Homo sapiens: one gene and its partner. The protein of the gene in region 2 purifies or fractionates together with the protein of the main gene of each other region. This does not show direct contact. Each region holds a gene or a part of one and is shown on either strand. Other genes may lie near its edges.

Evidence for each region. Proteins that work in one complex are often made in the same cells at the same time.
Region 1: the proteins of CHI3L1 (region 2) and UBLCP1 purify together in Homo sapiens (affinity purification with mass spectrometry; one large-scale study listed by BioGRID and IntAct). This does not show direct contact.

Annotation. Positions count from the first base shown.
Region 1 is NC_000005.10:159,266,175-159,269,831, forward strand, and holds part of UBLCP1 (ubiquitin-like domain-containing CTD phosphatase 1), read left to right. Parts: intron 1-2,695; 5' UTR 2,696-2,741; coding exon 2,742-2,895; intron 2,896-3,657. UniProt on the Homo sapiens protein: Dephosphorylates 26S nuclear proteasomes, thereby decreasing their proteolytic activity. Recruited to the 19S regulatory particle of the 26S proteasome through its interaction with 19S component PSMD2/RPN1.
Region 2 is NC_000001.11:203,178,296-203,181,089, reverse strand, and holds the end of CHI3L1 (chitinase-3-like protein 1 precursor), read left to right. Parts: intron 1-437; coding exon 438-620; intron 621-1,212; coding exon 1,213-1,329; coding exon of another isoform or gene 1,330-1,504; coding exon 1,505-1,645; 3' UTR 1,646-2,159; downstream 2,160-2,794. UniProt on the Homo sapiens protein: Carbohydrate-binding lectin with a preference for chitin. Has no chitinase activity. May play a role in tissue remodeling and in the capacity of cells to respond to and cope with changes in their environment.

The sequences.
Region 1 (3,657 bases), on a different chromosome or scaffold from region 2:
TTGTTGAATGGCTTTGCCCAAAATTCTGATAGCTATATGAACCATAAGGTCCAGGCTGAGGTGGTCTCAGATGGAAATGAGGAACTTGTTGGGAACTGGAGTAAAAGTGACTCTTGTTATGTATTAGCAAAGGTACTGGCAACATTTTGCCCCTGCCCTAGAGATTTGTGGAACTTTGAACTTCAGAAAGATGATTTAGGGTATCTGGCAGAAGAAATTTCTAAGCAGCAAAGCACTCAAGAGGTGATTTGGGTACTGTTAAAGGCACTCAGTTTTATAAGGGAAGCAGAGCATAGAAGTTTGGAAAATTAGCAGCCTGACTATGCAGTAGAAAAGAAAAACGCATTTTCTGTGGAGAAATTCAAGCTGGCTGCAGAAATCTGCGTAAGTATCAAGGAGCCTAATGTTAATCCCCTAGACCGTGGGGAAAATGTCTCCAGGCTATGTCAAAGACCTTCATGGCAGCCCCTCCCAGCACAGGCCCGGAGGCCCAGGAAGGAAAAAAGGTTTCGTGGGCCCGGCCCAGGGTCCCCGCGCTGTGTGCAGCCTAGGGACTTGGTGCCCTGTATCCCAGCCACTCCAGCCATGGCTGAAAGGGGCCAACTTACAGCTTGGGCTGTGGCTTCAGAGGGTGGAAGCCTCAAGCCTTGGTAGCTTCCATATGGTGTTGAGCCTGTGGGTACACAGAAGTCAAGAATTGAGGTTTGGGAACCTGTGCCTAGATTTCAGAAGATATATGGAAACTCTTGGACGCCCTGGCAAAAGTTTGCTGCAGGGGTGGGGCCCTCATGGGGAACTTCTGCTAGGACAGTGTGGAAGGGAATTGTGGGGTCAGAGCCCCCATACAGAGTCCCTACTGGGGCACTGCCTAGTGGAGCTGAGAGAAGAGGGCCACCACCCTCCAGGCCCCAGAATGGCAGATCTGACAACAGCTTGTACTGTGTGCCTGGAAAATCCACAGACACTCAATGCCAGCCCGTGAAAGCAGCTGGGAGGGAGGGTTTACCTTGCAAAGCCACAGGGGTGGAGCTATCCAAGACCATAGGAACCCACCTCTTGCATCAGTGTGACCTGGATGTGAGATCTGGAGTCAAAGGAGATCATTTCGGAGCTTTAACATTTGACTGCCCCGCTGGATTTCGGACTTGCATGGGCCCTGTAACCCCTTTGTTTTGGCCAATTTCTCCCATTTGGAATGGCTATATTTACTCAATACCTGTACCCCCATTATACCTAGGAAGTAAATAGCTTTCTTTTGATTTTACAGGCTCATAGGCAGAAAGGACTTAACTTGTCTTAGATGAGACTTTGGACTGTGGACTTTTGAGTTAATGCTGAAATGAATTAAGACTTTGGGGGACTGTTGGGAAGGCATGATTGGTTTTGAAATGTGAGGACATGAGATTTGGAGGGGCCAGGGGCAGAATGGTACAGTTTGACTGTGTGCCCACCAAAATCTCAACTTGAATGATATCTCCCATAATTCCTATGTGTTATGAGAGGGACCCAGGGGAAGGTAATTGAATCTTGGGGGGTGGTCTTTCCCATGCTATTCTCATGACAATGAATAAGTCTCATGAGATCTGATGGGTTTATCAGGGGTTTCCGCTTTTGCTTCTTCCTCATTCTGTCTTGCCACTGCCATGTAAGAAGTGCTTTTTGCCTTCCACCATGATTCTGAGGCCTCCCCAGCCATTCTGCAACTGTAAAGTCCAATTAAACCTCTTTCTCTTCCCAGTCTTGGGTATGTCTTTATTGGCAGTGTGAAAACAGACTAATACACTGATCTTTGATGCCTTAACTCTTGTATGTTCAACTGAAGAGATACAATTGTGGAGGAGAAGAAACATAAGATTTAGTCAGAAGACCTGTTCTGTAACTAGCTATGTGTCTATGTACAGATTGTATAGCCTCTCAAAACTCCTGTTTCCTTAATTGTAAAAGAGGGAAAACTTACCAAATTACTTTCTCTAATGAGATTGTGTAAAAACTTCAATTCATAAAATATGAAACAAAGAATGGCTATTTACTATTTATTTAGCACAGTGCCTGCCTGGAACATAGTAAGCTTTTAGTTTAAAAAGATTTTTGTTTAACCAATACTTAATTTATGTAGTGTTTACTAGGTGCCAGGCACTATGTACCTTGTAAATGTTAATTAAGTTAATCCTCATAAAAGCCCTAAGAAGTAGGTAGTATCATCATCCCTATTTTACAGATGAGGAAACCTAGACACTGAGAGTCAAGTAACTTCTCAAAGTCAGATGGCTAAGTGGGAGAGATCTGGGATCTGAACCCAGGTCATCTGGCTCTAGAATCTGTGTTCTTAACTACACCACACTACCTTTCAAATGTTAAATGAACATGGATGGTCTGTCAGGGAAGGACTTGCTTGTAGCATCAACCTGACCAAATAGAACAGGAGGAATGGTAGCTCATAATTGCACATTTCCAGTTGAACAGTGAGACTCAGAGTATTAGAAAGTAGTAACTCTAAGCCAAAAATTAGGAGTGTGGGGGAATTTAACTTTGAGTCCTAGTATCTTTTGGTGTTCTGGTAGCACTCCTGTATGGACAAAAATCCTCTCTATCATAAGTTGTAAAATAAGGCTTAAACTGTACACATAAAACTTAAAAGTTTGGCTTCAATAAACAGTATCTATTTTAACTTGTTCATTTTTGTCTTCCTTTCCAGGTATTTTTTTTTCTGAAGGAAAGCTGCTTCCTCATATGTTTCAAGAATGGCTCTCCCTATCATTGTAAAATGGGGTGGACAGGAGTATTCAGTGACCACACTTTCAGAAGATGATACTGTGCTCGATCTCAAACAGTTTCTCAAGACCCTTACAGGAGTTCTTCCAGAACGCCAAAAGTTACTTGGACTCAAAGTTAAAGGTAATTCTCTCCCCTCTTCAGATTTTTTGCATTGAATTTTTAGTATTATGAATTTTAATAATTATTTTGAATATAATTGTTTAATAATTTATACTTGCTATTTGTAGTTTAGTAAGTCTCTCCCTTTCGAGATTTCTCTGGTAGAAATATTCTTAAAATTGTTTTAGTGGTAAAAGTAAGAATATTAAAGTGTTCTCGAAAATACCATGATTATTAAGATTACTTTTGATGTTTTAGACAGTCAGTATTTGCTTGTTAAACCTTTGGCACAGAAGTCCCGGATGAAACTCATTTATTTTCTGACATCTACCTTTTAGCACAGTGTTTCGTTGTAACGAGGGCCTCGTACTCTTCCCAAATTATCTTTTCTGTTTCAAAAGTAAAGACAACATTTAAAAATTACAGGCAGCATTCATATCCAGTTTAAAAGGGATTTTTTTTATGGTGTTTTGTGATTATCATATTGAAGAGTGAGTTTTGAGTAACAGTAAATCTGCAGTTTTCTTAGGCACTCAATTTTTAAGGCTTCCTGGAAAACAGTAATATTCATCTTGAACAACAGAATAAAACATGAATTAATTTTGTTTAGGTAGTTGAATAAAGGTGTTCATCTAACATAGAATTGGGGAGAAAATAACCCTTGTATTAATTTTGACTTCTTCGTGTCTTAGATATGACTAATTCAGCAGAAACAATTTGTTAATGTAGGAAAAAACAAAACAACAAAAATTGCTGTGACATCTGTACCAAACCTTTTAATGT
Region 2 (2,794 bases):
TCTCTCTAGCCCTCAGTACAGTCCTGCAAGAGGGGGGTCATGAGGCCCATTCCACAGATAAGGAAACTGAGGCCCAAAGTCTGGGCATGCTGCGTTGCTCTGGGAAGGTGATCTGCAGGGTAAATGGAGTGAGGGCAGGGGGCCGAATGGGGAGAGGCTGGGAGCCGAGGAGGTAGGAGTCATTGTGCCCTCAGAGCCAACCACCTGATTTCTGCATCTGTCAAATAGTAATAGCCCCTTCCTATGCCTCAAAGGATTTTTTTCAAGAATGAAACTGTAAAATTCACTTTAAAGTGACATGATCCGTTCCCGGAGGGACAGGGGAATCCCCAGTGCACCATACACCAATAACCCCTGCTAAGGCAGCAGTATTAATTGCTCAACCTTCCGCACCTGTGCACTAACTGCTCACGTTGTTCCCACCCTACCCCACCCAGGACTATGCTGTGGGGTACATGTTGAGGCTGGGGGCTCCTGCCAGTAAGCTGGTGATGGGCATCCCCACCTTCGGGAGGAGCTTCACTCTGGCTTCTTCTGAGACTGGTGTTGGAGCCCCAATCTCAGGACCGGGAATTCCAGGCCGGTTCACCAAGGAGGCAGGGACCCTTGCCTACTATGAGGTAATGGAGTTGGGGAGAAGGTAGGATTCCCCCACACCACCAGCAGCCCTGGGGAAGGTGATTCCCCACCACGTTCTTGCTTTTTCTCCTTTGGGAATAAAGAAAATGTCCGGTTGCCCCAGCATGCCTGAGGAAGTGGAAGGGAGAGGTTAGGACATTTGTTGCTGAAAATCTCCAGCAGGTACAGGCACATGGGCCTGCACCACTAGGCACCTGGGATAGCCCTCTGGCTATGGGGCTGAGGTCTTCCTTCCAGCCCAGGAAAGAGCAGAGGTCAAGAGGCAGATTTTTTGTTTCACTCTAGCCTCTGCTACTCTGTGTGGCCTTGGGCCTGTCCTCAGTGTCAACCAGCAGGCCTCACATCTCTGTTTAAATGGAAGAAGCTAAGCAGGGCCAAGGCAGCCACCATCTCTGGGTCATTTGCCTCTGGTTTGTATAAACTTGTGTGATGCATGCAGCCTGCAGACCCTGCAGAGAGTGAGGCTGCAGGATGGAGCAGGAGCTAAAAGAGATTTGGAGAGTGGCGTCTCCTGGTGACCTGCAAGGTCTCGGCACGACTCCCCACACTGCCTTTTCCCTGTTATCTGCTCAGATCTGTGACTTCCTCCGCGGAGCCACAGTCCATAGAATCCTCGGCCAGCAGGTCCCCTATGCCACCAAGGGCAACCAGTGGGTAGGATACGACGACCAGGAAAGCGTCAAAAGCAAGGTAGGTTTCCCCAAGGCCACACCTCAGGACAAAGAGAAAGAAGGAGGCCCCGCTCCCAGCAGCCAGATTCCTGTCCCTTGCACTGAGGTCTGGGCTGGGCTCACAGAGCACATGTGCCCTGTACACACTCTGGGTCAGGGAACCCAGCCCTGCTCCTCTGGGCCTCCCCTGCCAGGTGCAGTACCTGAAGGACAGGCAGCTGGCGGGCGCCATGGTATGGGCCCTGGACCTGGATGACTTCCAGGGCTCCTTCTGTGGCCAGGATCTGCGCTTCCCTCTCACCAATGCCATCAAGGATGCACTCGCTGCAACGTAGCCCTCTGTTCTGCACACAGCACGGGGGCCAAGGATGCCCCGTCCCCCTCTGGCTCCAGCTGGCCGGGAGCCTGATCACCTGCCCTGCTGAGTCCCAGGCTGAGCCTCAGTCTCCCTCCCTTGGGGCCTATGCAGAGGTCCACAACACACAGATTTGAGCTCAGCCCTGGTGGGCAGAGAGGTAGGGATGGGGCTGTGGGGATAGTGAGGCATCGCAATGTAAGACTCGGGATTAGTACACACTTGTTGATTAATGGAAATGTTTACAGATCCCCAAGCCTGGCAAGGGAATTTCTTCAACTCCCTGCCCCCCAGCCCTCCTTATCAAAGGACACCATTTTGGCAAGCTCTATCACCAAGGAGCCAAACATCCTACAAGACACAGTGACCATACTAATTATACCCCCTGCAAAGCCCAGCTTGAAACCTTCACTTAGGAACGTAATCGTGTCCCCTATCCTACTTCCCCTTCCTAATTCCACAGCTGCTCAATAAAGTACAAGAGCTTAACAGTGTGTTGGCGCTTTGCTTTGGTCTATCTTTGAGCGCCCACTAGACCCACTGGACTCACCTCCCCCATCTCTTCTGGGTTCCTTCCTCTGAGCCTTGGGACCCCTGAGCTTGCAGAGATGAGGCCGCCATGTCCTCTGCCTAGCCGCAGAGAGCCCCAGTGGGAGGCCAGCGTCCTCAGATTCACCTGCCTTGGACTTAACCCAAGCATGGCTGATGGCCTTCCAAATATTAAAGTCATTGCCATCCAGATTTCTAAATTAAATTCCCTGTTGAAAGAAACGTTTTCTGTTTCCTGAAGGCTAGCAGGCCCTGGGAAAGAAGGCTTTTCATCCCAACACTCCCTCTCTTCTGATCCACAGGAAGGTGGTGGGAGCTCATCACAGGACCAGGTTAGAAAGCCCTGAACCCTGGACCCTCAGGGCCAGCAGGAAATGCAGATGTCATCTCATGCACCCTTCCTGCCTCTCGGGACTGGAGTCCCTGCAGAGTGCTTGAGAGATGGCCCTCCAGCCTCCCAGTGAGGGGCAGCCGATTACCTTGGAAGCAACCCATTCCGTGGCTGGGCTGAAATCTGTCAATAGTCCTAGTGCTGGGCTTAGCCCTTTGTTCTGTTCACCCCTCCCCTAACACTCATCCC